Linked DNA regions of Homo sapiens. The protein of the gene in region 3 interacts with the protein of the main gene of each other region in a pairwise test. Each region holds a gene or a part of one and is shown on either strand. Other genes may lie near its edges.

Region 1 (7,861 bases), on a different chromosome or scaffold from region 3:
CGGTACCGTTGCTGGACAACACTGACTGAAAACGGAGGTGCTGGTACAGGAGGAATGGGTGGGCGAGAAATAAAGGCCTTCTCTCCTGCCCATTGGTTGGAAGCAGGCAATGGAGCCAAGTGACCTTCTACAGCAGGGCCTGACCAACTGACTGCTGTGGGGTCTGCAGGTTGGGACCAGAAGGTGGGCTTCTTGGGCAATTTCTCTAGAGGTCATCCAAGGTGAAACCCTCTGTGTCTCCAAGAGGCCTCCCCATTCTCCAAAGAGAAGGAGGTTCTGGCGCTTTGGAGAGGAAGAGGGCCAAGTGTGGCTCCCGATTCAGGTCAAAAAAATAAAAGTAAATAATACCTGAAGTCCTACGGTATGAGATCTTTTCACGGGGTTGGGGCTCAAGGCTCCTTCTGGAATCGATCCTAGAGCCTGAACCCCCAAACCAAGTGCTCCTGTATACAGACACTGGAATTTTTTTTTTTGAACCCAGCTCTGAAAGCTCAGCTGCCTTCATGGGGGACACAGACGGGGTGGGTACTAAGGCTCCATAACAGAGCCAAAAACTGAGCTGAGGGCCTCTGTGGGGGCTACTGGAATGCTTGATGGAAACGAGGCAGGGTGGTGCTACTCAGGCCAGACGTGAAGACAGGAGGCAAGGAGTGCAGAGGCCCAAAGTTCAGTGGTCCCCCAGCTCCTGGGGAATCTTGAGGCTGAGCTTGCAAAGTGGTAAGCAGGGGCTGTGCCTCAGCCTGGGAGTAGCCCATGACCAGGCCTCCTGTGGCCCCAGGTGGGTTACACGGGGGCAGGTTGAGTGGAAGAAAGCCCAGTAGGTGGGAGAAGTCCACATTAGCAGCGCAGAGGGCCTCAGAGAGGTTGGCGGGGCTCTTGGCAAGCAGTGCTTCATCTAGGAGGGCCGCAGCTGCCGCCGGCTGAGGTGAGGCGGGCTGGGGTTCAGCGGATGAGAGAGACAGGCTTCCAGGAAGCTCCGCCAGAAAACTATCCACCTCCACTTTGGGCAATTTGTCGGGCAAGTATGAGGTAGATCCAAGCTGGTATTTTGGAGGGAGCTGAGCTGGGGAAGAGATAGGTGAGGATTCCAGAGGGTAGCTCATACCCATGGGCAGCGTGTTGTGCACCAGGGAGTGTGGCACGCCCGTGCTGGGCATGGTAGGGATGTGGGCACCATACATGCCCATGGGCAACATGCCAGGGAAGGCCTTGGTCCCCATTACGTCCCGAGAGGCCATGCACAGCACAGGGCTCAGCTCTTCCTTCACACTGACTGTGGAGCTGCAGCTGAGTAGGCCTAACATGTCCACGGGCTCTGTCTTGATCTTGAGCAGCTCCTGCGAGTGGCTCTTCTTGACATGACGCGTCAGGTGGTCCTTACGGCCAAACCGCTGGGCACAGTACTGGCACAGGAAGTCCTTACGGCCTGTGTGCACCACTAGGTGCCGCCGTACATCCTTACGAGTATAGAACCGCCGGTCGCAGTGGTCACAGGGGTGCTTCTTCTCCTTGGCACCGCCTGCTACCCGGCGTGAGTGGGCCTTCAGGTGCTCTAGCAGGGCCTGGGTACTCTCAAAGGTCTGCAGGCACACCTTGCAGCTGAGGTCACCGCTGCTGGCAGCATGCATGGCCAGGTGGCGCCGGTAGCCCAGCTTCGTATTGTAATTCTTACCGCACTCAGAGCAGTGGAGGGCCTCTTTGTTAGGATCATGGGTCTGCAGATGGTTCCGCAGATGGTCCTTGCGGTGAAACATCTTATCACAGTACATACACTGGTGGGGTTTCTGGGCTGAGTGGGTGGCCATGTGCCTGGGGGTAGAGACAGGGGATAGGGGAGAAAGCAGAAAGAGGGGAGATCACAAGGGATGACTGGACAACCAAAGGTGTCCATTAACAGGAAACTAGATATAAAAACCATGGTAAAGGCTTGCAATGCAATACCAAACCAGTTATATTCTACAGATATCCTTGCCTATCTGCAAAATAATGTGTACCGACATTCTTTGCAGCATTGCTTGTAGTAGCAAAAAAAATCAGAAACAATCTGAACGTCCAATCTATCAATAGGGAACTGGTTACATAAATTATGATAAGTCCATAAAATGACTCAACTTTTCAAAAATGAGGCTTTTTGTGTACTTACAGGGAACATGCTCCTAAGAGACAGGAAGTAGAAAAAAAGCAAGGAGGCAGAATAGTGGATGTAGACTAGGACTCTATGTGAAAAGGGGAAAAATATATGTATGTTTGCTTGTATATGGCTAAAATATTTCTGGAAGGACATACAAGAAACTGATACCAGTGGCTGCCTATGCGAAAAAGAACCGAACAGCTTATAGATGGGTGTCATGGAGAATTTTCATCGTATAAGTTTTGGTACTTTTTGAATTTTGAATTACGTGAAAGTATTTCATTTTTTAAACATTACATTTAAATAATTTTAAATGATACAATAAAGAGAAAATAAAATATACCTAAACGTGCAGTCTGGGCACAGTGGTGCATGCCTGTAATCACAGCACTATGGGAGGGTGAGGCAGGAGGATCATTTGAGCCCAGGAGTTTCAGACCAACCTGAACAACATAGCGAGACCTTGTCTCTACAAAATCTTAACCATTAGATGGGCATGGCAGCATGCACCTGTAGTCCTAGCTACTCAAGAGGCTAAGGCAGGATTACTTGAGCCCAGGAATTTGAAGTTGCAGTGAGCTGTGATCGCACCACTGCACTCCATCCTGGGTGACAGAGCAAGACTCCGTCTCTAAATAAATAAATAAACTTCCTTATCTAGAACAAATTTCCAAGATATACAGGGCTAAGTCAAAAAAGGAAGTTCAATACAGTACATGTGATACAATCTGTTTTGAAAATAAAAAAGAAAGAGAATATACATGTTTGAATGTCTTAGGAAGGATACACAAAAACCAACCCACCAGCTGCCTTTGGGGAGAGGAATAGTGACTTCGAGTGTGAGGATCATTCATTCTTCACTGCATGCCAGTATGTACCACTTGAATTGCTTGTCATATAAACCAGTAACACTTTAAGAAATGTTTTAATGGTATGGCACTTCAGTGTCCCTTGGTTTACCTGATCCTATATGGTTGAAAAGTGGCTCAGAATCCAGGAACTGCAATTCACAGCTCCAGAGCATATTCAGAATCAACTCAGCACCCACTGTTTGCCAGGCTCTGCATAAGCTGTGTCATTAACCTTGATCTCCAGACAAGGAAAGGAGTCTAAAAAAAAGGCAGCCCCCTCACCCTAGCAGAGGCTGAATTTAAACAGGCCTTCGGAAGACCTATGTTCAGTCAGGTATGCAACAGCTGTCTCTCTCTCGTACAGCACTCTGTGATCCTTTCTACCTGGAGGGTATCAAACACACCCCCTGCCCACATCCCACATATGCATGCTCAAGAGTGCTCGTGCCTATGTGGGTTACTGTCAACCTCCTGTGATGGAACTGACGTGGTAATGTAGAGAGGGAGGTGCTGAGTGATCCACTTTTCATTTCCCTCATTTTGCAGGTGAGGAAACTGAGGCCCAAAGAGGTCTAGCAACTCACCTAAGATCACACAGTAAATTATATGTGATGAGTCAGGGCTCCTGCCTCCTGACCCAGGACCTTTCCTGCAGCCGCCCACTGGCAACCAGATCATCATTAAGAAAGTCTAAGAAGGCCGGGTGCAGTGGCTCATGCCAGTAATCCCAATACTTTGGGAGGCTAAGGTGGAGGGACTGCTTGAGGCCAGGAATTTGAGATCACCCTGCACAACACAGGGAAGAGATCCTGTCTCTAGGAAACATGCAAAAATTAGCGGGTGTGGTGGTGGTACATGCCTGTGATCCTAGCTACTCAGGAGGCTGAGGCAGGAGGATCACTTGAGCCCAGGAGTTTGAGGCTGCAGTTAGTTATAATCACGCCACTATACTCCAGCTTGGGCAAAAGTGAGACCCTGTCTCAAAAAAAAAAGAAAAAAAAGAAAGCCTAAGAGTATGGCCTTGACTGGAGTTCCCTTAACTTATAGGAGCACACAGAGAATCTAAGCACTCCTGAGGACCACAGAATTGTCAAGAGGGCAATCCTGACTACCATGCTACCCTGTTGCCTATTTTAGTCCCTTCCTATTAACTGTTTTCCAGATGAGGAACTGAGGCTTTGTGGTCATCTTGTTCATGTATTTACTTGTTTACTGTCTGTACCCACTATTAAGACCATAAACCCAAGGAGGACCAGCACCCCCATCTGTCTGGCTCACTACTCCGCCCCTTGCACCGAGCACTGTGCCTGGTACAGAGCAAGAGCTCAATAATGTTGGATAGATGAATGGATGGTTGGATGACTGTGCATCAGGCCAATCTATCTCATTTCTTTTTTTTTGAGACGGAGTCTCGCTCTGTCGCCCAGGCTGGAGTGCAGTGGTGTGATCTCGGCTCACTGCAAGCTCTGCCTCCTGGGTTCACACCATTCTCCTGCCTCAGCCTCCCGGTAGCTGGGACTACAGGCGCCTGCCACCGCGCCCAGCTAATTTTTTTTGTATTTTTAGTAGAGACGGGGTTTCACCGTGGTCTCGATCTCCTGACCTCGTGATCCGCCTGCCTTGGCCTCCCAAAGTGCTGGGATTACAGGCGTGAGCCACCGCACCCGGCTGATCTATCTCATTTCTAAAGGGCAAGTTCATGGTTCCTCTAATGCGAAAAGGATAAAATCAAAATTGCTCTTTTTTGTTTTTTTTGAGACAGTCTTGCTCTGTCACCCAGGCTGGAGTACAGTGGCACAATCTCAGTTCACTGCAACCTCCTTCTCCTGGGTTCAAGTGATTCTCCTGCCACAGAGTCCCAAGTAGCTGGGACTACAGGCATGTGCCACCACACCCAGCTAATTTTTAAAAAATTTTTAGTAGAGATGGGGTTTCACCATGTTGGCCAGGCTTGCCTCAAACTCCTGGCCTCAAGTGATCCGCCCGCCTCAGCCTCCCAAAGTGCTGGGATTACAAGTGCGAGCCACCACGCCTGGCCCAAAATTGCTTTTGACCATGCCTCCCCATCCTCACCAAAGCAACCAAAGCTGCTCTTCTCTATCTGCCTTATGTCAGGGCTTTTACGTTTAATTTCACTTTAAGTAGGGGTTCTTGGGCTTACAAGTTTCAGAAAAGCAGCTGCCCCAGTGGGCAACAGGGAGACAGACATAGTTAAATGAGTAAGTAGCAGGCTGATTCAGTAGAAGAGGCACTGCAGGACCTCTGAAGCTGTGTGACCTTGGGTAAGTTATGTCCCTACTCTGAACCTCTACTTTAAAATTTACAGACTGGGCCAGAAGGTCTACTTTTCCTTCTAAAGTTCGAATACTGATTCCTAACTTCTAGCTAAAATTCTGACCATCACCTGACAAAGGTGAGGAAAGCAATATTTAAAAAAAAATGTTCAGGGCTAAGTGCGGTGGCTCATGCCTGTAATCTCACTGCTTTGGGAAGCCAAGGCAGGAGGATCACTTGAGCCCAGGAGTTTGAAACCAGCCTGGGGAACACAGCCACACCCCCATATCTACAAAAAATTAAAAACAACCAGGTGCGGTGGTTCAAGCCTGTAATCCTAGTTACCTGGGAGAATGAGTCAAGAGAATCACTTGAGCCCAGGAATTGGAGGCTGCAGTGAGCTGATTGCACCACTGTACTCTAGCCTGGATGACAGAGCAAGACTCCCATTTCTTAAAAAAACAAACAAACAAACAAACAAAACTCAAGGCTGCCTGACATTGGCACCCAGATCGTCACTAAGAAGGTGTAAGAAGGCCAGGTGCAGTGGCTCACGCCAGCAATCCCAATACTTTGGGGAGGCAACCCATCAGATTCTAGTGTCTGAATCAAGCAATCTGAATCATTTTTTAGTGAGTGACTTCAACTGTTTGGCATTCAGGGTATACTTGTAGGACAAATTAACCTCCACTCTTCTGCCACAGATTAAAAACCCACACTAGGCAGAGTCTCTCTGCTTTTTCCCTCTGGGAACCTCAGGGCAGGAAGAGATATGAGAGTGTCACCTACCTATACAGCTTGTATTTGGAAGCAAAAGCCTTGCCACAGTGCAGCTGAGGGCAGCTATATGGTCTCTGCTCTGGTTGCGGGAGGCTGTGAGGCCTCAGCTTCTCCCCATTTGAGAAAGGTGTTCCCGAAATTTCACATTGGCACTTCACTTGACTCTCCGCCTCCCGGCCCCGAGGCCTGGGAACTAGTTTCCAGCCCACTTCCTCCTCCTGCTTTGCATCTTGAATCCAGGGGGGGACGCTGGTGAAAAATGTGGTCATGGCAAGGCTAATGGCAAAGGGCCATGTTATTGAGAAAGCCTCCCCATCCGCTCCACACAGGCTCTCAGCTCTGTCACAGCCTCCAACGCAGCTTTCAGAAAACAATCTCTTCACCTGAAACATCAGAACACCTGGTGTTAGGGAGCCCAATACCATGAGAACATGGGCTCTGGAAGCAGACAGATCCCGTTCCAATCCCAGCCCTTCCACTTAGAAGCTGTGTGACTTTCAGCCAATTACTTACTTCCCTGAGCTGTTTCCTCATTTATAAAATGGGCATAATAATCTCCTAAATTATAAAAATGTTTTGAGGATTAAATGAGATCATGAATATAAAGCATTCAGCAGAAGGCTGGGCATCCATTAAGTGCTTAGTGGTAGCTACTATTACTAGTACCATCTAGGCTAATAAGAAACAAGATAAACTGAGGAACCAAAAGCCCCAAAACTTCAAACTTTTTCTTCTGGACCTCACTTTTATATCCTTTCCATTGAACCTAGAGATAGCGGTTCCTCCTTCTTATTACCCTGGCACCTCCTCGTCCACTACTTTCCACAATTGTCCTCCTCATGGAGGTGCTAAGGAGCAATAAAATGCCCAAAAGGCAAGAGAGGAGGAAGGGGAAGCCTCTACTTAGGAAATTTACATCCTAGTCAGTCCTGGTACCAGATGTGTTTCTTAGCAGTGCATCAACATCAGGAGGGTCTATATGGGAAGGCAACAGCAGATTCTTAGCATTTTCCCTAAACCAGGACTAGAACTGGTCCCATCCTGACCACCACCACTTCTCTGGGTCACTGTGTCTCAGGGCCCAGACCATCCCTCTTTAGCAAAGCCTGTCCAACACCCCTAGGTGCTGAGAGGCCCCTCCTACAGGGCCTCAGAGTACATATGCACATCTCCTTTAGAAGACGGTAGCGAGCTCGCATTGGAATTTACTCCTCTCCACCAGCCTGATTGTCTGAGGGCTTGCATCATCTCTCTTTCATCTCTATATACCTAATATCTAGAAAAGGAACCCTAACTTTATTTCAGATAGGTAAACTAGTCACTGAATGCAGGTTGATTCTCAGGGACCAACCTAGGCCCAGGTAGTTCTGGTTTAAACTGGGTTCGCAGCCATTCCCAAGTGGGGAGCCGAAATCTTAAAGTCTGATTCTTTCTCTTGTTGAATAGAAGGGGAGATGTGCAAGAACGACACAACTCCATTCCAGATACTAATCCAGAGGAAGAGGATGGGAGTTACCACACTGACTCTCAAAAGGGGACAAGAGACCCACATTCATACTCCCAAGCTTACCACAGATTACCAACCACGATGCAACCTGCTACAACAGGGGGATTCCCTTTGAAGAGATGGTGCCAAAATTTGATCATGAGGCTTTTCCATGTGAAGAGAGAAAAGGGGGTGTCTGGGGATTATCCACGAGAATCTGGGGAGGGCTCCAACTGCACAAACTAGCTGTGGGCCACAGAATGCTTGCTCAGCTCATTAGCACCTGCTGCTTACAGTGACCATTCATCCAACAGACTGGCCGTGAACAAGATGATGGGA
Region 2 (8,441 bases), on a different chromosome or scaffold from region 3:
TTCCCACAGGAGCCAAGGCAAAGGCCTGTGAGCCCGGGGCGGCTACACTCCAAGAATCAGGGTCCCCAGTGCACCGGGACTCCGCTCCAAGGGGGGATGCAACCAGTTCCAGGGTGTGGGGGCAGCGAGACTGTTGGGGAGGAAGACGGGGCCGCCTTCACCTACACCCCAGGCAGGGGACTCCCCTAGGGGAATGGCCAGTGTGTTGCACGGTGGATATGCTCAAGCTCCTGTTTGCTCATCAGCGGGAAACACAGGGTCACAGAGGTGCCGCGGGGTGGAGAGAGGCAGGGACTGGGAATGAAACCACAAACTCTCCCAGATGCTGATGTTGCTGCCTCACAGTCACCACAGTCCACGGCTCTGGGCTGCTGGGCTCGTGGTGCACTCAGAGCTATCACTGGAGCCCGTGGCTTTGGGGAGCACTCTCCTAGATGGCCTAGTCCTGATAATGGTAGTAATGGGGACAGTAATCATAACTGCTGTCATGTAATGTGTCATAGTATGTGCCAGGCACTGTGCTACGTATGTCATATGTGAGCTCAGGTCATCTCTTTGCCATCCTCTGAATGAAACACCATTGTCCTTTTTTCTAGGGGGGATTGACGGTGAAGATGCTAATACCTGCCCAGCATCGACCCTAGTGCGGGTCCCAAGACCATCCCCCTGTGCAGGCTCCACCACCGCTGTGCTAACTGGACCGCGGCAGAACAGTGTGGGTGTGTGCCAGGTTCCTGCTGGGCCCTGCAGCTCCTCCCCCCAGCCCCATGTGATGTGCCCCTGGCCATTGACACTCAGTTCGAGGGAAGGCACTGGGGTGTACACTCAAAGACCTAAACCCAGGGTGGGTGCGGTGGCTCACGCCTGCAATCCTAGCACTTTGGGAGGCTGAGGCGGGTGGATCACAAAGTCAGGAGTTCAAGACCAGCCTGCTCAACATAGTGAAACCCCGTCTCTACTAAAAAATACAAAAAATTAGCTGGGCATGGTGGCGGGCGCCTGTAAGCCCAGGTACTTGGGAGGCTGAGGCAGGAGAATCGCTTGAACCTAGGAGGCAGAGGTTGCGGTGAGCCAAGATCTCACCATTGCACTCCAGCCTGGGTGACAGTGCGAGACTCCATCTCAAACAAACAAACAAAAAAGACCTAAACCCTAACCGTGGCTCATGTCACACCAAGAACGCTCTCTGACCTGGGTCTTCTGTAAACATTGTTGTGAAAATTATTGAAAGTGAAAGCCAGGCACGGTGGCTCATGCCTGCAATCGCAGCACTTTGGGAGGCCGAGGCGGGCGAATCACCAGGGCAGGAGATTGAGAGCATCCTGGCTAACATGGTGAAACCCCGTCTCTACTAAAAATACAAAAAAATTAGCCGGGCATGGTGGTGGGCACCTGTAGTCCCAGCTACTCGGGAGCCTGAGGCAGGAGAATGACGTGAACCTGGGAGGTAGAGCTTGCAGTGAGCCAAGATCGCGCCACTGCACTCCAGCCTGGGCGACAGAGTGAGACTCCATCTCAAAAAAAAAAAAAAAAGAAAAGAAAAGAAAAGAAAGTAAGTATTGGGGCGGGGCATGATGGCTCATGCCTGTAATCTCAGCACTTTGAGAGGCTGAGGCGGGCAGATCACCTGAGGTCGGGAGTTCAAGACCAGCCTGACCAACATGGAGAAACCCCATCTCTACGAATACAAAATTGGCCAGGCATGGTGGCACATGCCTGTAATCCCAACTACTCAGGAAGCTGAGGCAGCAGAATCACTTGAACCCGGGAGGCGGAGGTTGTGATGAGCTGAGATCGCGCCATTGCACTCCAGCCTGGGCAACAAGAGTGAAAGTCCATCTCAAAAAAAAAAAAAAAATTAAGGATTGGCTGGACTCACGGGACAGTGACAGGCAGTTGACGTGAGGCCCCTGACAGTCTGTCCTGAGCCGCAGCCAGATTAATGTTGCTGAAAACGTACCTTCCCATAGCACAACCCATCACCCTCACAACCGCCCTGCAAGCTCCCCTGAACAGTGTGACCTCCTGTCCATCCAGCAGCCTCTTTATGAGTGAGCTGCAGGACAAGCTCCGGCGCCCCGAGGACACTCACATGAGGAAGCAGGAAAGCGCTTCAGTGTCAGGACTCTGGGGAAGGTGCCTCCGGGCCAGGGGCTTGTAGTGCTGCCAGAGTCGGAAGTTCTCATAGACACTCTTGGGTTTACAGGAGTCGTCCGGCCGGGCCTTGGCCTGGGAGGGAGCCAGGCTGCCCTCTCCATGAGCCCCTTGTGGCCATGGCCTAGCGTTCCCTGGGGACACGATGGGGGCCACCTGGGCAGCCGGTGGTGGTGGTGGAAGAGGAAGGCCATGGGACCAGCCTCCCTCACAGGCCTGGGTGCCCCCAACCACCTGGGCAGAGGTAACGGGCACCCCAGGAGCAGCTGCCAGGAGTAGGGGAGGTGGACACATGACACCTCCACAGAGGGTGCCTGGAGCCTGCCAGACGAGGGGGGCCTGAGTTAGGATCAAGGTCTGTGCCTGAGGGGGCTTCACAGGCCCCACTTCTGTCCTCATCTGGACAAAGACGTTGGAAGCCCCGGCCCCACTCGGGCCGCGGCCATCCTGTCCTGCCACTAGAGGGGTGCTGGGGAAGGCAGAGAGCACCAGAGGGCCGGCTGGAGGAACCACTGCAGTCACGAGGGGCGGCCTGTGTGCTGGGCCGGGAGCGGGTGTGGCAAAGGGCAGAGCCGTGAACACAGACAGGGAGGTGCCAGGGTTCACGGTCACGCCGGGTCCCAGCACTGGGTATGCTGTGGAGACAAAGGAAAGAGGTGAATGAGCTGGCGTCTCCAGGTCCACACTAGTCACTGGGGAATCAGGGGAGTCCCAACAGCTGAGGGCATGTGACAGGGAAACTCTGCAGCTTGCAAGTGTCCCTGAGTGTGCATCAGATGCTCTGTTCCTCCACGGCAGAGTCGCTCCACTAGAGAGCCTGGCGCCAGTCACCAAGACTCCCTGACCCTTGTCTGCCAAGAAGAAACAGCCAAGCCTTTGCTGTCTCTGAGGGTCTCCCTCGGGTGTCCCTGGCAGACTGCACCAGCCTCACAGGCATCTCCCAAGCCATGGGTCAGGGATGAGTCTCTCGGTGGCTTGGTGGCTCTCAGTGTGCTCAGCAGCAGGTGAGGGGCCTACCCCAGGGCAGTGCTCGGCATTCAGAAGGCCGACAGGAAACCAGAAGTTTCCGAATATTATGGCCCCATCTCCTCTTCAGTCTTCCTTTCCCTGAAGCTCTTGTAAACCCCTTTCTTTCCTAGCTCAACACAACAAAAGAAAACCACTGGATAGGCCGGGCGTGCTGGTTCATGCCTGTCATCCCAGCGCTTTGGGAGGCCCAGGCGGGTGGATCACCTGAGGTCAGGAGTTGAAGACCAGTCTGGCCAACGTGGTGAAACCCCGTCTCTACTAAAATACAAAAATTAGCTGATGGTGCGTGCCTGTAATCCCAGCTACTCAGGAGGCTGAGACAGGAGAATTGCTTGAACCGAGGAGGCAGAGGCTGCAGTGAGCCGAGATCGTGCCACTTCATTCCAGCCCGGGTGACAGAGCGAGACTCCGTCTCAAAAAAAAAAAAAAAAAAAAAAAAGAAAACCACTGGATGGAAACTCACCCAAGCCAGTGCCCTAGGAACCCTGAAGATAACCCATAACACATCACGCCCAGCATGCAAGTGATTGTCCTGGCACCACCCACACAAGTGTTAAATAGGGGTCAGATTCAGGCCACCCATTCCTCAGTGCTCAGTGGTCCCAGCTGCCACTCAGGAAGCTCAGTTCCCAGGGAGCAGATCTGAGAAGCAGTGGTGGAGTCCCCTGAGATATTGTCATTGTGTAGCCAGCAACAGCTGCACATGACTAGAACACAGCCAGCAAATGGTGAGCAGCAGGGCTATCAGGGGAGGTGTCTAGGGATTTTCTTTTTTTTCTTTTTTTTTTTTTTTGAGACGGAGTCTCGCTCTGTCACCCAGGCTGGAGTGCAGTGGTGCGATCTCAGCTCACTGCAACCTCTGCCTCCCAGGTTCAAGCACTTCTCCTGCCTCAGCCTCCTGAGTAGCTGGGATTACAGGCGCCCGCCACCATGCCCAGCCAATTTTTGTATTTTTAGTAGAGACGGGGTTTCACCATATTGGTCAGGCTGGTCTTGAACTCCTGACCTCGTGATCCACATGCCTTGGTCTCCCAAAGTGCTGGGATTACAGGCGTGAGCCACCGCGCCCGGCCAGGGATTTTCACAGCTGCTAGTCATGTTACACTAAATAGTGGGACAGGGAGCCCATCTCTGGTCCTTCTCCTTTGAGCTCCCAGTAACTGAACATAGGGACCAACGAAGAACCAGGGGTTCTTGGGCCACAGGCCAGGTGAGGCAGAGTTGTCTGGAACTCATCCCTGTTCACTAGGACCTCATGCAGTCTCTAGCCAAGGGGAATAAGGGATACAGCACATGCACCTCATCAGTCAGGACACACATCCTAGTTTGAATAATAATAATAATAGGACTGTCTTCCTATTTGTGCGCTACTCTCCTTCCTCTACTGAAAAGGAAACCAGCCTTTTCAGAGCCTTCCACTGAGAACCAGCAAGAATCCACACCTGTCGCCCGTTCATGAGGTAGTATAAATGGAACAGGAGCAAATTCTTCACCTCCACAGTAACACAAAGTACAGAGGACGGGCCATGAGCTAGCTGACGAGAGGAAGTGGGTCTGAAGACCTGAGCTTCCACCAAAGGGCAAACAATTCAGAACAACTCAGGAAACCCAGGCCCTGTGTTGCCTGAACTTCCCCATTCTGCCCCCACCCCTGTTAAATCAAAGCCAACAGCTACCTGAACTGACGGAGAAGCCATCTCTGGGGAGGAAGCTGAGAGGCTCTGGGCTGTGGCAGTTGCAGTGGCCCCCAGCCTTGCCCACCCAGAGGCTGTCACTACATGCTCTGTCACAGCCAACCCACCCAACAGTTTTCTGGCTGAGACCACTTCTCCCCACTCCTCTCTAAGAACTAGAAAACTCCAGTCCAAATCCCTCTAAACACTATGGAAGGGCACCTTCCAGGTGCCTGAAGACACGGCACAGGGCTCAGGCTTGCCCGTCATTCTCCCTGGGCCACCAGCACAACACGATCCCACCACTCCCTACAAACACAATGACGTGACCTGTCCCCCTCTAGAAAGGATCAACCCATCCTCTCCATCCTTTCCACTACACGGTGTATTCCCCCAGGCATCTTGGTCCGCCTCTAAGGAGCCCTCCTCCCTAACCACAGACTCAGGGTGCCATGGCCATCCCCAGGTGTGATGTCCCTGGGGACATCCAGTGCTCCCTCCCTCAACATCAGCCCTATAAGCTGTCCCCAGGGACAGTTCAAATTTGAATTCCCAAGGAGTTGAGGCAAGGCAGACTCGGATAATGCCCCATCCCTACAGGCTCACCTCCATTTGAAGCCATCCCCTCAGGCTGGGCACTGACCACCACTGTCTGGCAGCTTCCGCAATGAAAAAAGTCAAGGGCAGGACCCAGAGAGTGACCTGACTCAGCAGATCCTCCTGAGTCCAAGTGGAGCAGGGATAATTTGCATATAAACAGGTTTGGAACACAGGACCCCAGACATTCTGCAGAGGGGGAGGGGCAGTGGGCAGCCGGGCTTGGCGGGGGTGGGGGACATTCTGTGAAGGGCTCTGGCCAGTAGGCAAGAACCTGAGGTTCCCTTGGTTCAGTTGGTTGCCATCCAACTGGATGGCAGCAACACAGACAGTGTGCGCCTCTTTAGGCAACTTTTAAATTGTCCTTCTGACTCACAGCAAAAGCTTCTACCTGATGTCCCCTTTACTTCCATTCTTTATCAACAGACCTACTTTTGTGCCAATCAACCCATGCTCCTTCCCACTTTGGCTCTTTCCCACTCTTGATGAATTTCAACAGGGGCCACACTTACTTAACAAAATTCAGAACACGTTTTCAGTCTGAGAAACACAGGGGTTCTTAGGAAGGCAAGGGGACTGAGTGTTTGAAATCAGAATGGCCTCAGCTGATCCAGGCTATTAGGTGGCTGTGTGCTCATCATTGTTTAGGAAGCAGTCCTTGTGCCCCCAGGTCATGTATGTTGCTGGAATCTGTCCACACCAGTAGGCCAGCCTTACTTCCCGTCCCCTTTCTTAGGAAGACTCAGTCCAGGAAAGAGAGGCTATGTGACCTACAGCACCGAGACCAGAAATCCTTTCATTTTGTTTCCCAGCATATTGTGCTGGTGTTAAATGTTTATTTTGTATCTTTTACATGATTTTAACTTAACTAAGCAATACTTTTGCATGGTTCCAAATTCAAATTGTGCACAGTGGAATAGACAATGACCAGCCTTCCTCCCACCTCTTTTCTCTGGCCACCACATTTTCTTTCCTGGAGGAAATAGGTGTTATCTGATTCTTTTTCATCTTTCCAGAGATATATTATGCAATCAAAAGCATAATGAAGCTATTTTTGCTGTCTAAAAATATTTTCAGTTTTTTGGGGGTAAAAATTAATATATTAATATGTTCTAGTATTCTTCTGATATTTGCAGTGACTGTATTTGTCCCAGTAATGTGGTTCCTCTCTTTATTTCTGTAGGTAAATTGCTAGAATGAGATGTTGGACTGTTTTTTAAAATTAAAAATACATGAAAGAACATAGTGGCCAGATTTAGCAAGTATGAATAAAGAATACCAAGTGGAATTTGAATTGAAGATAAACAGTGAATTAGTTTTTACTATAATTATGATCCATATGACATTTAGAGTACACTTTTACAAAAAAAAAAATCTGTCCTTTATCTGTGCTATTCACATTTCACTGGGATCTTGCACTTTATCTGGTAACTCTTCCCAAAAAAGTGTAACATATTAGGCAATTATTGTTAACTCTCCACTGTGAGAGTGCGAACTTGCAGTAAGGAGACTCAAGTGTGAATCTTGGCTGCACCACAAAAAGATTCTGCACCACAACCATTGCAGAAAACAATAGCAGGCTGATTTGATGAAAGGAAGTCAGGAGTAGCCATTATACCGTTCTCAGCTTCCAGGTTTAGTGGCAGTACGCACAGTTTTAAGGGACAGGAGAGCAGAACACCGTCTTTTTCTTTCCTAACATAAAGTGGCTTACAATTCCTAGAACTCTGGTTTCTCCAGGAGTTAGAAATCCACAACCCACGTCCATTCTGAGACAAGCAAGGATGCTAACCACCAATGTCCCATCCCCATTCTCATGCATCCCCTTGCATGTGTGAATCCTGGTTGGAGTCTCTCAGCTCGTTGCTGTCCTCATCTTCATCACAAGTGTCATCACATGTGGTTCTCAGCATGGGAATTATTGTAGCCTGTCTTTAAAAAAATCTTCATTCTCATTTTCACACAGAATTGCTGTTTATCAGCGTCAAAATGACAGGAAAGAGCACTCATGTTCTGTGTTGTGAACAAGGGGAGTGTTAGGAAACTGGTCAAAGGAGATGAGGAGTGAGTACTCAGAGCACAGCAAGAAAATCTGAGACACAGATGTCACTCCCTGCTGGGCAGCAGTCTTTTGCACTGATGGGTGGGTGTTGGGGAAGGGAAGAGGCCTTCAGCCGGACCAGTGCACACTGTGAACATTCACTGAAACACACCCTGTTGGCACTTAAGAAGCATTTGCCCCTTTCAAAGACATTTGGACTCAAGAAGGCAGAGTTGCAGAAAACGTAACGGGCCACACTGCAGGGGCAGGCAGTGGATTGCAAGTCTCAAGCCCAGGGTTCTCCCCTCCTTGCCTGGGTTGTGTGAAAAAGTCATTTCCTAACTCCTATCCGATATCCTCATGAGTTCTCGGTTTTGTCCCAACTCTAAAACTGAATGGTCCAGCGAGCATTTCTATGAAATGCCTCCACAGTGGCCACTGGGAGGGGAGTGACCTCCACACAGTGACTGCCTGTCTGGATGCTCCCAGGCCTTTTGTCCTCCGAGACAGAGCTGCCTCCTTACATGCAGCCCTCTTCTGCTGTGCAACTCTACCTCGATCTTAGCTGAGAAGATCAGCGGAGAGCAATTCAAGCAAAATCATGGTAAACTTACCAAAACCAAACCAAACAAACAGTAAATGCTTTGGAGATCTTTCTGAGGACGCGATCTTTTATCACGGGGCAAAAACTTAAATGATTTTCAATCAGTAACTTCATCTAAGAGGGATGTTGAGGCAAAATATCACACTCAGGCACTGAAGAAGGGCAGAATTCTTGTTTGCTTCCTCCCTTGTCAAGTTAGTCAGTCAATGCTTTCTCAAGATGCTCACACATGGCTTTGATACAGGATTTGAATGAGTCTTTTTCTGAGCCACTGATACAAAAAGTATATTGTGGAAGTGTCTTGTTTCAATTCTGCAATCGCTTCTGTATGTGTTTGAAGTCC
Region 3 (7,861 bases):
TGCACCACTGCACTCCAGTCTGGGCCACAGAGCAAGACTCCGTTTCAAGAAAAAAAAAAAAAGAGAGAGAACAAGCATCAGAACATATTATGATTATGATTATGATTATGATTATGATTATGATTATTATTATTATTATTTTTGAGTCAGAGTCTCGCTCTGTCACCCAGGCTGGAGACCAGTGGCATGATCTTGGCTCACTGCAACCTCCACCTCCCAGATTCAAGTGATTCTCCTGTCTCAGCCTCTCAAGTAGCTGGGACTACAGGCATGTGCCACCACGCCTGGCTAATTTTTGTGTTTTTAGTAAAGACAGGGCTTCACCATGTTGGCCAGGCTGGTCTCGAACTCCTGACCTCAGGTGATCCATCTTAGCCTCCCAAAGTGCTGGGATTACAGGCGTGAGCCACTGTGCCCAGCCCGCTTGTTCTCTTTAAAAAAAAAAAAAAAAAAGGCATGAGGCTGGGTGTGGTGGCTCATGCTTATAATCCTAGCACTTTCGGAGGCCAAGGCCAGAGATTGCTTGAGGCTAGGAGTTTGAGATTAGCCTGGGCAACATAGTGGGACACGGTCTCTACAAAAAAGTTAGTTGGGCATGGTGGTGTGTGCCTATAGTCCTAGCTACTTGGGAGGCTGGGGCAGAAGGGTTGCTTGAGCCCACAAGTTCAGGGTTGCAGTGAGTTATGATCAAGCGATTGCACACCAGCATGGGCAACAGAGCGACACACTGTCTCCTTAAAAAACAAAAAATCGTTATGACATGAGGCCAAAATAAAAATATCCTGTAGGATGTTGATAAAGAGTGGATGGGTGGCAACTATAGTTTGTTTTTCCTCTACTTAGTATTCAGCTCTTTAGTCAAAATTGCTGAGATTTTCTTTTTCAAAGTGTTGTTTGAATTACATTGGTAGCAGTTTTTACTGAGGAAAGACCTAGAGAAGTTTTCATTACAGTAAGTATATGTGTGAGTTTAAGTGTAAAACTTTGAAAGAGGAAAGAAACTAACATTTAGTGGACAGGCCCTAGCAGTGTTCTAGGTACTTACGTGTGTGTCATTTTCTTTCTTTTATTTTTCTTTTCTGTCACCCACTGACTCTCAGATATTTAATTTAATCCACCTGCCAACTATGTGAAATACATATCTTATCTCCACTTTACAGATGAGGAGACTGAGATTTAGAGATACTTAAATACCTTGCCCATAATTATACAGTGAACTCATATTTGAACTCAAGTCCTCCTGTGCTCAGAGTCTACAACACCACCATATTATCCTGGGAGGCCAGATAGGATAGTATGGTATAAGTTAGCAAGTTACTGTAAGAACTTGTGCCAGCAAGGCCAGCTGTCAGAGCTCTGATTCTAACTTTCACGTGTTAGTTTCCACATGTATGACCTTAGTTAATTTACTTATCCTCTCTGCACCTTAGTTTCCTCATCCCTAAAGTGGAAATAATAATAATACCCACCCCAAAAAGTTGTTGTGAGATGAAATTAGATAATATATTTTAAAAACACTGATGCTCATGCCGTGTGCGGTGACTCACGCCTGTATTCTTAGCACTTTGGGAGGCCGCGGCAGGTGGATCACCTGAGGTCAGGATCACCTGAGGTCACCTGACCAACATGGTGAAACCCCATCTCTACTGAAAATACAAAATTAGCCAGGCGTGGTGGCGCATGCCTGTAATCCCAGCTACTTGGGAGGCTGAGGCGGAGGTTGGAGTGAGCAAAGATCGCGCCATTGCACTCCAGCCTGGGGAAGAATAACAGTGAAACTCCGTCTCAAAAACAAAACAAAACAAAAAACACTGATGCTCACACCAGTAATCCCAGCTACTTGGGAAGCTGATGAGGAAGAATCACTTGAGGCCAGGAGTTCGGGACCAGTCTAGGCACCATAGCGATACCCATCTCAACAAAAAATTTGAAAAGTAGCTGGGTGTGTTGGCACACACCTCTAGTCCCAGCTACTGGAGAGGATGAAGCGGGAGGATCACTTTAGCCCAGAAGTTTGAGACTGCAGTGAGCTCTAATCACAATCACACTACTGCATTCCAGGCTGGGTAACTGAGTGAGACCCCATCTCTTAAAACAAAACAAATAAACAACACTGATGGAACACAGTAAGAGGTCAGTAAATGTTAGCTTCTGTTATAAAGGTATTTCAGACAGCTTCTCTGGGGTTAGTGCAATTGATTATTAGAGAGGGTTGTGCCACCTGAATTGAAATATAAATAATCTAGCACTGTCCACCATGACAATGTGGAGAAAGCAAATTTAACATATGGGTTGTTTTAGTTGAACATTTAAAGCATCACTTTTGCATAAAATATACCAGACCCCTTTTGTGCTATGAAACTATGGAACCCACTCTTTGGAACTCCATCTTGACTGGATGAGGTTTTGGCTTCCCTGGGACTTGAAGGAAAAGGAAGCTAGCTGTTGGCGCCAGGCCCCCGAGATTTAAGAATCCCATCTTGCGGCCAGGCACGGTGGCTCATGCCTGTAATCCCAGCACTTTGGGAGGCCAAGGCGGGCGGATCACGAGGTCAGGAGATTGAGACCATCCTGGCTAACACGGTGAAACTCCATCTCTACTAAAAAATACAAAAAGTTAGTGGGGCGTCGTGGTGGGCACCTGTAGTCCCAGCTACTCGGGAGGCTGAGGCAGGAGAATGGCATGAACCCGGGAGGCAGAGCTTGCAGTCAGCCGAGATCATGCCACTGCACTCCAGCCTGGGCAACAGAGTGAGACTCTGTCTCAAAAAAAGAAAAAAAAAAAAAAAGAATCCCGTCTTGTTTTGAGCTGGGAGCAGTGGCATGCACCTGTAGTTCCAGCTACTCAGAAGTCTAAGAGGGGATTGGAGGATCTCTTGAACCTAGGAGTTCAAGTCCAGCCTGGGTAACATAATGAGACCCTGTCTCTAAAAGAAAAAAGAATTCTTTCCTGTTTCTCCACCAGGTCTGGCCCCAGTACTCTGAGGAGAATGTGTCCTTGTCCTGTTGGAACTCAGTCAGATGCCTGAGGGTCAGACTCTAGGTTACTTATTAATCAGAGGGGACTTTTTTTTTGGAGGGGGACAGGGTCTCGCTCTGTCACCCAGGCTGTAGTGGCACTGTCATGACTTACTGCAGCCTCAGACTCCTGGGCTCAAGCAATTGTCCCTGCTCAGCCTCCCAAAGTGCTGGAATTACAGGCATGAGCCACCATGCTTGGTTGATAGAGGACTTTTCAATAGTGATTTATAGTTCAGAGAACTTTTCACACACAGTATTTCCATTTATTGTAGCAGTAGGCCACAAGCTTTGAAGTAAGGATCTAATGATGTGCTTATTAAAACTGCAGGTTCCCAGGCTCTGACTACAGAATCTGATTCAGTAAGTCTGAGTTTGGGCCTAGGAATCTGCATTGTCAAAATTACTGGAGAAAACATTGTATTGCTTAGATCTGGAAAAGATGAGGAGGTAGCTAGATGTGGTAGTGTGCGCCTGTAGTCCCAGCTACTCAGGAGACTGAGGTGACGGGATGCCTTGAATCCAGGAGTTTGAGGTTACAGTGAGCTATGATCGTGCCACCGTGCTCTAGCCTGGGTGACAGAGCAAGACCCTGTCTCTAAAAAATAAATAAATAAATAAATAAATAAATAAATAAATAAATGAAAGATGAAGGGATGAATGAAGAGACCTAGGGAATTAAAAAAGAAATAGGGCTTGTATTTTTTAGTCTATCAAATGACGTACTATTTGCCTCTGTTTATATTTAATGATTTTGGGGGGTATCTTAATTCCCTCTTCTTCTTCTTCCGTTTTTTTTTTTTTTTTTGAGACAGGGTCTCCCTCTGTCGCCCAGGCTGGAGTGTCGTGGCGTGATCTTGGCTCACTGCACTTCTGCCTCCTGGGTTCAAGCGATCCTTCCACCTCAGCCTCCCAAGTAGCTGGGACTACAGGAACGCACCACCACACCCGGCTAATTTTTGGATTTTTTGTAATTTTGGTACAGATGGGGTTTCACCATATTGCCCAGGCTGGTCTCAAACTCCTGAGCTCAAGTGGTCCGCAAGCCTCAGCCTCCCAAAGTGCTGGGATTGTAGGTTTGAGCCACCGTGCAGTTCCCTTCTTATAGAATATCCTTCAATACATCCTTTCACCACTAATGTGAAGCCATATCTAGCCAGTCCCCAAATGTTACTGATTGTTTTCCTATGATGTATCCCCCCAGTTGTTCCTTCTGCTCCCATTATACTGTGATCTCCCAGACTCATGCCTGAACGTATCAGTTAGCTTTTTCTGGGTAATAACACACCACCAGAAAACACAGTGGCTTGAAACAATAACCATTTATTTATCCTGTGAGTCTGTGGTCGCTAGTTTGGGGCCGGGCTCAGAAGGGCAGTTCTTCTAGTCTTGCCTGAGCAATTTGTTCATCTGTGGCCAGCTGGGACAGGGTCTCACCATCCAGTAGACTAGATTGGACTCATTTACATGGGGGCAGAACAGGTCCAAGTGTAGCAAGAGGGCAAGCCCAGTGCACAGGTGCTTTGCAGACCTCTGCTAGATCACCTTTGCGAACATTCCATTATCTAGAACAAGTCACACAGCCAACCCAGGTCCAGCAGGTGGAGGAATAAATAAACTCTGCCTCTTTTTTTTTTTAGACAGAGCCTCACTCTGTCGCCCAGGCTGGAATGCAGTGGTGCGATCTTGGCTTACTGCAACCTCTGCCTCCCGAGTTCAAGCAGTTCTTCTGCATCAGTCTCCCGAGTAGCTGGGATTACAGGCACCCGCCACCACGCCCTGCTAATGTTTTGTATCTTTAGTAGAGACAGGATTTCTCCATGCTGGCCATTCTGGTTCAGGTGATCCACCCACTCCGCCTCCCAGAGTGCTGGGATTACAGGCGTGAGCCACCGCACCCGGCCAACTCTGCCTCTTAATGGGAGGATCTGCCTTGTCACATTGTAGGGTCATGAACGGAGGGAGAATAACTCTGCCCATTTTTACAATTTGCTTCATTATCATATTTCCCTTCCTTGCAAGCTTTTCTGACTATGGACTTGCTGCTCCAATTCATCCCACTTCGTGCTACCACATTCATTTTCCTTACACACTGCCTTCATATTACATCCTGGTTCACAAACCCGCAGAGGTCGCCTCTTTTCCTCCCTCATATGCTGTAAACTCTTATGCCCAGCTTTCAAAGGTCTCTTTAAGTTAGCCTGAGCTAAAAGCAGAGGCTGTGCTGTACAGGAAAAAAGGACTAGCATAGTCAGGGGAGGCTGTCAACAAACTTTATTACCTCTCTGGGCTTCTATTTCTCCTATAAAATGAGAGGTTGGGCTAAATCCATGAGATTCTTTTCAGATTTATTTATTTATTTATTTATTTATTTATTTCTCGAGACAGAGTCTTGCTCTGTCACCCAGGCTGGAGTGCAGTGGTGTGATCTCAGCTCACTGCAACCTCTGCCTCCTGGGTTCAAGCAATTCTCCTGCCTCAGCCTCCTGAGTAGCTGGGATTACAGGTGCCCGCCACCACACCCGGCTAATTTTTGTATTTTTAGTAGAGATGGGGTTTTACCATGTTGGCCAAGCTGGTCTCGAACTCCTGACCTCGTGATCCGCCCACCTCGGCCTCACAAAGTTCTGGGATTACAGGCATGAGCTACCACGCCCGGCCTATTTTTTGTTTTTTAATTTTACATTTTTGACATGAGGTCTTGCTATGTTGCCCAGGCTGGTCTTGAACTCCTGGGCTCAAGTGATCCTCCCACCTCGGCCTCCCAAAGTGCTGGGATTACAGGTGTGAGTCACTGCACCAGGCCTCTCTTCAAATTTAAGATTGTGGCTACATGTACCTACACAGGCTTATTTCCTAATACTCCCCAAATAAACCCTCAACTGTAATGAGACCAGGCTTCTTATTTTGCCATGGAACATCTCGTGTTCACATTGCCCTTAGAGTGTTCCTTGCCCTTTGAGTGTTGGTTCCCCATATTTTCTTTTTTTTTTCTTTTTTTTTTTTTTTTTTTGAGACAGAGTCTTGCTCCGTCACCCAGGCTGGAGTAACAGTGGTGTGATCTCAGCTCACTACAACCTCCGCCTCCCGGGTTTAAGTGATTCTCCCGCCTCAGCCTCCCAAGTAGCTAGGATTACAGGCTCCTGCCACCACGCCCAGCTAATTTTTGTATTTTTAGTAGAGACGGGGTCTCACCATGTTGGCCAGGCTGGTCTCAAACAACTGACCTCAGGTCATCCCACCCACCTCGGCCTCCCAAAGTGTTGGGATTACAGGCGTGAGCCACTGCCCCTGGCCTGTTCCCTATGTTTTCTGATTCTGGAATTGCTCTTTGCCTTCTCCACTGCTTGTCTGCTTGTTTTAAATTCTGGCCATCTCATGTCTTTGTTAATCTCTGCCATCCAAGTTGGCACTTAATCACATTATCTCTGGCATAATTCAGTGTTTAAATTGTTAGTCTTATTAACTAGATTATAAACTCGTCAAGGGAAGATACTGTATTTTATACATCGACTGAGCACATAGTAGGTATCAAATAAATATTTGTAGATTAATATTTGTAGATTTCCATCCCAGGTCATAGAAAATAGGAACTGGCTGAAAACTTTTAAGATAAGCAGGAGGATAAGAGCACTTGGGCAGAGGTGGAGATGATGGTGCTGGTGGTGGTTGGAGATAGGGGTATTTTGGTTAAATGCACCTAAGGCAGTGTACACTTACCAGGCTGGTGGCCTTTAGAATGTATCTATAAAATTGCCTTGCAGTCCTTTCCTCCCGCCATTCCATGACACTGGTTCTCCTTTGCTTATTTCCTACAGTTTCATCCTTTTATCCTGTAATCTGTCACCATGACCCTGACAAAAGGTTCCTTCACCTACTCCAGTGGGGAGGAATATCGTGGCGAGTGGAAGGAGGGTGAGAAGGACCCCTGGGGAGTATCCATGATGAACACTTCATTTGCTGGAGGACAAATACATCAGGATATATAGCCAACTTTATGGATCTTCATTTTCAACTCCAGGATTTAATTCCATATAGTGCCTGCCATTCCTTTATTCCATTTTAGGATTAAATAAAGGAATTTGAAAATGCTATTGTTAATTCAACCTCCAGGAATGAGTTATATCTTTCTTTTTTTTGCTTCTGTTTTTGTTTTGTTTTGTTTTGTTTTTTGAGATGAGGTCTCGCTCACTATGTTGCCTAGGCTGGAGTGCAGTGGTGCAATCTCAGCTCACTGCAACCTCTGCCCCCTGGGTTCAAGCGATTCTCGTGCCTCAGCCTCCCAAGTAGCTGGGATTACAGGCGCCTGCCACCACATCTGGCTAATTTTTGTATTTTTAGTAGAGACGGGGTTTCACCATGTTGGCCAGGCTGGTCTCGAACTCCTGACCTCAGGTGATCTGCCCACCTCGGCCTCCCCAAGTGCTGGGATTACAGGCATCAGCCACCATGCCCGGCCCATGCCAGCCTCTCTTCTAAGCATTTTGTATTTATCATCTTATTTAATCCTCATGACAACCTTATGAGGTAGGCACATACTATTATTATTCCCATTTAACAGATGGGGAAATTGAGGCAAGGAGAAGCTAAGTAACTTACTCAAGATCACAGAACTCTAAGTGGTAGAACAAGAAGGCAAACACAGCAGGCAGCCTGACTCGGTGTCCTCAAAATCTAACTACATTGCCTCTCTGAGGAAAAAAAAAAAAAAAAACAACCAGTATCCATTTAGCACCTTAAAGCTACTGGGCAAATCTAACAGCCTGATTAGCAGCACTGGTTTCAGCTTCATTATAACAACAGGGCTGTGCTTACTCTCTGAACTGACCAGAAAACAGAGCAA
Region 4 (7,861 bases), on a different chromosome or scaffold from region 3:
GATTTTCCTTTTAACAGGGGAGGGGAGCGTGGGACAAAGAAGGTGTTAGCGAGGCAGCCCCATGGCTCACGGCACAGTCTGCTGCTGGTGTGCGTGTGCTGGGCCCTGGCACTTCCCCACCAGCAGCCCAGGCTTCGGAGCCCTCACCTGCAGTGACTTCTCAAGTCAGGGTCCCTGGTTCTCATGGTAGCGGGGACAGGGAAGGTGACTGAACCTGAGGCCTCAGGCTTTCATAGCAGAGAAGAAAGACAGCACGGTCCAGTGTTCTCAGCTCTGCCCAGAGGTTTCTGTTCCCGTATTTCAGGGTTTCTCTGTTTCAGCACTAGCAGCATTACGGCTGGACCATTCTTAGTTTCTGAGGAGTCGCCCTGGGCACTGCAGGGTGCTGAGCAGCATCACTGGCCTCCACCCACCCAATGCTCCTGACATCTGACAACCACAAATGTCCCCAGACGTGGCCAGTATTCCCTGTGGAGTAGAATCGCCCCCATTAAGAACTGTCACCTTATTTTTTTTTAAGTGGGGCAGGGTGGGGTGACAACACTGTCTTCTCTCCTGAAAGGGAGCAAAGCGTCTGCCACCTCTTGGCTGCCCTCCAGACATGTGGTCCTAGTTTGGAGATTGTGTGGTGGGGAAGGGATGGCAGTGGTTGGAAACAGTGGCCCTGGACCATGCACTGGGACTCTAGGAAGACCAGGGTCAGCCAGCACCACCTTTCCCAGCCACAGACATGGAATGTGCTACGGCATCTCTAGCAGCTCCACTGGCAAGAAGCTTCTTTCAAAGCTCGAGAGGCGGTATCGGTGGCTGTGTCTAGAGACTTTTGTGGTTGTCACAACTGGGAGGTACTTCTGGAGGTCAGGGATGCCACTCCGCCCCTTGCAGTGCCCAGGATAGCCACACCACAGGGAATGTTCTGGGCCCAGTGTCAACATGTCAGTAGTGTCGACGGGGAGGGCCCTGAAATAAACAAAAACCTCTCTAGCATGCAGAAAGCACCGGCTTGTGTTTTCTGCTTTCCTTTCTGTTACTCACCGTCCAACAGAAGCCCAAGTCGAGAAACGTGGAAAGTTGATGTTGCTGTTGCCATGGCTTTAGGCAAAATAATGAGTCCCTCAGGGGCTGTTCCCTCCAAGGAGGGAGGGCAAGAGGCGGGGAAGGGCTTGGCCTGTGGAGTTCAGGCCCTGTGGAATCTCTGCCTTGAGTCTGGGGAGACAGCTGCTTTGAATTTGGTGGGGTTGGCTTCTTGCAGAAGTCAGAGGCTTACGTGCACTTCGCAGTCTCAGTCAAATCCCAGCCTCTCCTTCCAGGGCAAACTTGAGCCATGGATTCTTTTTTTTTCTTTGGACACGAAGTCTTGCTGTGTCGCCCAGGCTGGAGTGCAGTGGCATGATCTCTGCTCACTGCAACCTCCACCTCCTGGGTTCAAGCGATTCTCCTGCCTCAGCCTCCCAAATATCTGGGATTACAGGCGCCCACTGCCACATCCAGCTAATTTTTTGTATTTTTAGTAGAGGTGGGGATTTCTCCATGTTGGCCAGGCTGGTCTCGAATTCCTGACCTCAAGTGATTCCCCGCCGCCTCAGCCTCCCAAAGTGCTGGTATTACAGGCACGAGCCACCGCGCCCAGCCAGAGCCATGGTTTCTTAACCCTCTGAGCCTCTGCTTCCTTGTTGGTCAAACAGGGTCCCTAACATCCCCCTCCCAGGCCTCGTGAGGATTAAAGCAGATCGTGCATTTGACAGACTCAGCATAGCAGCTGGTAGGAAAGAGGCCCTCAAGAAATTCTGCTTCTATCATGTTCATAGTAAACCCCCCAAAACGTCAGCTTTGTAACGTTGTGTTATTGGTATGAAGCATTGACCGAGAGGCCAGCTTAGGCGTGGTTTTATAACAAGGCGTGGTTTTGTAACAAGGTGGAAAAGGCTCCTTGGAGCTTCATGAGCTCTCTTTCCATCCTAACTGTTAAAGCAAAAGGTGATGGAGTTGATTATAGCCCTGCCCCCCAGCACATGCACGCGCACACACACAGGCGGGTACAGGAGAGGGTTCATGGCTCCGAGCAGCTCCATGCAGCTCAGGGGGTCTGCAGACACTGAGCTGTGGAACTCCAGGCACCCCCCCACCCCCGATTACTGAGCGCTCCGTCTCATTCCCAGCTGATAAATGAGAGCGTGGACGAAGCCGACATGGAGAATGCTGGACACCCCAGCGCAGACACGCCAACCGCAACGAACTATTTCCTCCAGTATATCAGTTCCAGGTGTGTGTCTCGGTGTCAGCGGCCAGCCTGGCATGGCGATGCAGGTGGCCGCGAGGGCTTCTGCCAGAGAGGGGTCTGTGGTCCCCGTGCCCGACTCAGGCCCAGAATCCAGGTTGCTCTCAGGCCCCTCTCTCTCATTCCCCACTCTGGGCACAACCTTGGGTGGGCCAGGGTGGTGGGCCTTGTCCTGGGATTCACTGGACGCCTGAGACAGGACCAGAGTTCTGTGGGGTTGTCCAGGGGCCCATGGAGGCTACAGCCCAGCCCTTGGAGTGTGCCCTCTGTCTTGTGGACCTCATGCCCAGAGCAGAACAGAGCAGGCCAGAGGCGACTCAGGCGCCCCCTTATTCTGGGTTTGGGCACCTGGGGCAAAGACCTCATCATGTCCTTGACTGACATGGCTGGGGGTAATGCTACCCACGGACCAGCTGCCCCTCCAGGTGTCTCAGAAGAAAGCGTGTCCCGACTGGGAGATGGGCGGGTAGAGCAGGTGGAAGGTGGCTTCCCTCATGCTGTGGGGCCCCTCCATCAGGGCGAGCTAAGGGTTAATGTTTTCAATGGCACAGGGAGGTGTGTGGCTTCCTGCCTCTGACACGCCACCCCGTGCACAGTGGCGGAGGCCCCTCCACTGTGCCCTCTGTGTCAGTGTGTGCTCCATGGGTACCCATACATTTGCCTGGCCACGTTCCCACGTGACGCCCCACACTCATTGCACATCTTCTCTTCAGTTTAGAGAACTCAACCAATAGTGCCGACGCCTCCAGCAACAAATTTGTATTTGGCCAGAACATGAGCGAGCGAGTTTTGGTGAGTGGCTGTGTTGGGAATGTTCTCAGGGACCAGAGGCTCTCGGCGCCAGCCACAGGTCAAGGGGACATGGAGAGCAGGGCTGCTGTGTCGTCCTATGTGAGATGGGGATGCCTTCAGTAGCAAGTGAGAGAGGGAAGACCCTGCTCAGACTCAGCCTGAAAACTGGCCAGGGCCACTGGCTGCCTACGAACTGGCATTCGCTTTTCCCGGCTCCTCCGTGCTGACCAGGGCCAACTTCATCCCAAGATGGGCTTCCCTGGAGGCTGCAGGGTCCTGCTGGCAGTCGGGGTCCATGGTTCCTCCCCACCAGGCCAACTGACAAAAGTCCTGTGGGACGGAGCCAGCCGTGCTGGTGGACAGGGTTGCTGGCCTCCCTGCTCCTGTGAGCATAACCGCGGCCAAGGCCTTGGGTGCACGAAAGGCCCATCTCCGTTCCCAGGAGCCCAGCCAGCCTGGGAGAGGGTTCTAGAATGGTTTGCCTACCTCTTTACACATGTTCCTTTTTCTTCCTGATTCCACCCAGCTCCATTGCGACTGCGTGAGGGCCTGTCCTGAGCCGCCTGGTCACTCTAGCTCTGTCTGGAGTTAGGCTGCATTAAGTACTCTGCAGCTTCTCTTCCTTCGTGGCCACGCTGTGCTTTTTCTATTTCAATGAAATGTTCAAAGTCTTGCCTCACCCAGACGGAGTGACCAGTGTGGCTCGAGGGGACTGTCGGCTGGTGGCACTCACCCCGTAGTGATGCCTGAGGGACCACGTGGGGAGCTCCCAGGCAGTTCAGGGTGTCACCGGGAGTGGGCAGGAGTGCTGGGGGCAGCGTAGTGTTGGGGGCCAGGCAGAGAGGTGCTCAGAGCTGCTGCTGAAGGACCACACAAGTGCCCTCTTCCTTGTATGCTTTTGTGTCCCTGCAGAGCCCCCCAAAATTAAACGAGGTCAGTTCAGATGCCAACAGGGAAAATGCAGCTGCCGAGTCAGGGTCTGAGTCCTCGTCCCAGGAGGCCACCCCTGAGAAAGGTATGTTAGCGTCCCACCACAGCATGGGGCTCATGGTAGGTCATCTTGGGGGATGCTGGGTCCATTCACACCCCCAGCCGGGAGGGATAAGGGGCCCGACTCCCGCAGCAGTAACAACCACATGTGAACCAGCTCCAGGGCCCTGCCTTGCAGTGAGCAAGGGTTTGTGATAAAGAACTCGAGGGCCTGTGTCGCCTTGTGGCCGTGGGGAGGGTGGGGAGGCGCAGGCAGCAGGCGTGGAGGAGTCCCTCACTGTCCCCCCGTCGACTGCTCGGCACGAACACGAGAGTCTGGGGCCACACTTGGCCCCCAGATGGTCTCCCTGCAGCTTCTGAGGCCATATGCTCTGGCTGTGTCTAGGGTCCACTTGGGTTGCCGGGGCAGGCCTGCCAGGGGCAGCAGGCGTCCTTGAGACCAGAACCAACCCTCTCATCTCCTGTCGGATGAGGGGAGATGGCTCTCCTCTCGCCAAATAATCAGTCAGTCTTTTTGGCCAATAACTTTTCAGAGTCCCTGGCTGAGTCGGCAGCCGCCTACACCAAGGCAACAGCGCGGAAGTGTTTGTTGGAAAAAGTGGAAGTCATCACCGGGGAGGAGGCGGAGAGCAATGTGTTACAGGTGAGGGGCCGGCCCCTCCTCGGTGGCCCTGGGTCTTCCATGCACCTGGGGGTCCAACCGCAAGGGCTGGGCCCACATCCTCTGAGCACACAGGCCTGCCCCTGAGATGACGGAGGGGCCACTGGCCCCACGCTCTGGGACTTTGTTGGTGGCGTTTGTAGAGAGAGCTTAGGCTCAGGGGCTTCTTGCATGTCTTTGGTTTCAGAGGAGGAGGATCTGTTTGAGACATTCTTTGTTTTGTTTTAATTTTTTTTGAGACAATGTCTTACTCTGTCACCCAGGCTGGAGTACAGTGGCACAGTCTCGGCTCACTGCAACCTCTGCTTCCTGGGTTCAAGGGATTCTTGTGCCTCAGTCGCCTGAGTAGCTGGGATTACAGGTGTGCACCACCACGCCAGGCTAATTTTTGTATTTTTAGTAGAGACGGGGTTTCCCCATGTTGGCCAGGCTGGTCTCAAACTCCTGACCTCATGTGATCCACCCGCCTCGGCCTCCCAAAGTGCTGGGATGACAGGCGTGAGCCACCACGCCCAGCCCGAGACATTTTTGATGGTTCAGGGAATGACAAAGACTGTCATACCAAACATATTCTCTTGTCGCCCAGAGCTGGCAACTGTATTATTTGTCACCTGGCATCCTGTGGTGTCTTCGTAGGGAAAAGATCAGGTGCGGCCAGAGGTTCCACCCCACCGTCCCCTCCTGGCATCCCCCATTCCTGCTCCTCAGGCCGCACCACCCGGCTTGGGCAGCATCCATGTGCTTCCTCTCCCGTGGCACATAAGCAGGTGTCTGTGTCTGTAAACCGGGTGGCGTATCGTGGCGTTCTTAAGAGCACTGTTCTTTTTTCCCACTTACCACTTTGTCATCTGTTCATGTTGAAAGAGATTGACTTAGGGGGTATGTGGAAAGCCATGTAGGGGTGTCTGTCTCGTATTTTTCTTTGTTTATATATACAAAACTGCTGTATTGAAATATAGTACAAATGCTATATAATCCATCCTTTTAAAGCATACAATTCCGTGGTTTCTAGTATATTCACAGAGTCAGACAACTTTCACCAGAATCTAACGTACAACATTTCTGCCCCCAAAAAGAACACTGTCCCATTCCCCCAGAAAGAGCATTGTCCATTCGCAGTAACTCCTCCTCCCTCCCCAGCCCCTGGCAGCCACAGATCCACTTCCTGTCTCTGTTTTTTGCCTGTCCTTGACATTTCATATAAATGGCATCAACGCACTATGTGGCCTTTCGTGTCTGGCTTCTCTCGCTGAGCCAGAGGTTCATCCACGTTGCAGCGGGGGTCGGAGCCTTGTTCTTTATTAAGACTGAGTGAGATGCGCTGTAGGGGCGGACCATGTGTGTCACTCCATTCCTCCTTGAGACTTGGCTACCGTGAATGATGGTGCTGTGCACGTTCATGTGCGATCTGTGTGTGAACACGAACAAATGTTCCATTTCTCTTGGGTACATACCGAGGAATGGAATTGCTTGGGCATGTGGTAATTCCTTGTTAAGCAGTTTGAGGAGCCGCCAGACTCTTCCACAGCAGTGGCACCATGCGGCCTTCCCGCCAGCAGTGTGTGAGGGTTCCAGCTTCCCCACATGGGTATAGCCGTCCTAGAGTGCGCAGAGAGGCTTCTCACCGTTGTTTTGCTTTTCATTTCCTTAGTGATTCTTTTAATTTCAGATACCCCTTATACAATGTAAAGCCTGTTCTAGCTTGAGGGCAGGACAAAAAACTGACCAAGGTGGCCCCCAGGCCGTCGTTGGCTGGCCCTGGCAGTCCCCACAGGCTAAAGGGCGACTCTCAGGGTGTGGCTGCAGCAGGACACCAGCTGGGGTCCCTGCTTACCGGCGGCCACTGTGTTCCAGATGCAGTGCAAGCTGTTTGTCTTTGACAAGACCTCACAGTCCTGGGTGGAGAGAGGCCGGGGGCTGCTCAGACTCAATGACATGGCGTCCACCGATGACGGCACACTACAGTCCCGACTAGGTGAGCTGCCGACGGCGGGGGCTGTGGCCGGGTCCCCATGGGGAGGGCTGGGGACTATGCAATTCCAAAGGGAATGAAGCGGGGGAGATCCTGACCCTACCCTTGTGAGAGTCAAGGCACAGAGTCGGTCTCCCATGAGAGCCGCCCCCCAAACCCCCTCCCTGCACCCAGCCCTCAACACCACCCTCACACACTGGCTCCAGCTGCCAGCTCGTCCGTGACCCTCTTAGTGTCAAAATGGACAAAAGTCTATGGAAGTTTTTAAGCTGATTTTCTGACAAAGTGGCAGGTTTATGATAGAAAGGAAAATGAAATCAAACATCAAGTCTAATCTCTTGATAAAGACAAATTTTGGCCAGGCGCAGTGGCTCACGCCTGTAACCCCAGCACTTTGGGAGGCCAAGGTGGGCGGATCACCTGAGGTCAGGAGTTCAAGACCAGCCTGGCCAACATGGCAAAACCCTGTCTCTACTAAAAATACAAAAATTAGCCGGGCATGGTGATACATGTCTGTAATCCCAGCTACTCGGGAGGCTGAGGCAGGAGAATTGCGTGAACTTGGGAGACGGAGATTGCAGTGAGCCGAGATTGAGCCACTGCACTCCAGCCTGGGCGACAGACCAAGACTCCATCTCAAAAAAAAATAAAATATACTGTTTTTGAAAAGCTTTCATGTTAATATTCCATTGACAGTCAATGGACTTTTCCCTATTGGTGGACATTTAGCTTGGAGTACCTGCATACACACACCCACTTAAGGAAATCAGCCTGTGTGTGTGCACATTTGAAATGTGGGCGTGTCTTTTTTTTCCTTCTAAAGCTGATTTCACTCCATCACCCAGGCTGGAATACAGTGTGATCATCGCCTCAAATTCCTGGGCTCAAGTGATCCTCCCACCTCAGCCTCCTGAGTAGCTGGGACTACAGATGCACCACCACGTCTGGCTAATGTTTTTATTTTTGTCTTTATAAAGACAGGTCTCCCTGTGTTGCCCAGGCTGGTCTTGAGCTCCTGGCATCAAACAGTCCTCCCACCTCAGCCTCCCAAAGCGCTGGAATTACAGGCGTGGGCCACTGCGCTGGGACCATCTTTTTGTTTTATCTTCCCAAATCAAAGTGTCTTCTGGCCTTTTCATAAATATGGGTTTCAGGCCCAGCAGTAACT

Evidence for each region.
Region 1: the proteins of MORN4 (region 3) and PLAGL2 interact in binary tests that used the Homo sapiens proteins (3 or more experiments, as listed by UniProt).
Region 2: the proteins of MORN4 (region 3) and NUTM2F interact in a two-hybrid assay, tested with the Homo sapiens proteins (2 studies listed by BioGRID).
Region 4: the proteins of MORN4 (region 3) and RANBP3 interact in a two-hybrid assay, tested with the Homo sapiens proteins (2 studies listed by BioGRID).

The regions. Positions count from the first base shown.
Region 1 is NC_000020.11:32,195,874-32,203,734, forward strand, and holds part of PLAGL2 (zinc finger protein PLAGL2), read right to left. Parts: exon of another isoform or gene 7,607-7,861; intron 6,420-7,606; 5' UTR 6,306-6,419; coding exon 6,046-6,305; intron 1,810-6,045; coding exon 579-1,809; 3' UTR 1-578. UniProt on the Homo sapiens protein: Shows weak transcriptional activatory activity.
Region 2 is NC_000009.12:94,323,146-94,331,586, forward strand, and holds the start of NUTM2F (NUT family member 2F), read right to left. Parts: upstream 5,500-8,441; 5' UTR 5,479-5,499; coding exon 5,463-5,478; intron 2,790-5,462; coding exon 2,093-2,789; intron 858-2,092; exon of another isoform or gene 597-857; intron 1-596.
Region 3 is NC_000010.11:97,618,659-97,626,519, reverse strand, and holds part of MORN4 (MORN repeat-containing protein 4), read left to right. Parts: intron 1-6,836; 5' UTR 6,837-6,866; coding exon 6,867-6,933; intron 6,934-7,861. UniProt on the Homo sapiens protein: Plays a role in promoting axonal degeneration following neuronal injury by toxic insult or trauma.
Region 4 is NC_000019.10:5,920,036-5,927,896, reverse strand, and holds part of RANBP3 (ran-binding protein 3), read left to right. Parts: intron 1-2,159; coding exon 2,160-2,263; intron 2,264-2,991; coding exon 2,992-3,070; intron 3,071-3,982; coding exon 3,983-4,085; intron 4,086-4,593; coding exon 4,594-4,703; intron 4,704-6,575; coding exon 6,576-6,696; intron 6,697-7,861. UniProt on the Homo sapiens protein: Acts as a cofactor for XPO1/CRM1-mediated nuclear export, perhaps as export complex scaffolding protein. Bound to XPO1/CRM1, stabilizes the XPO1/CRM1-cargo interaction. In the absence of Ran-bound GTP prevents binding of XPO1/CRM1 to the nuclear pore complex.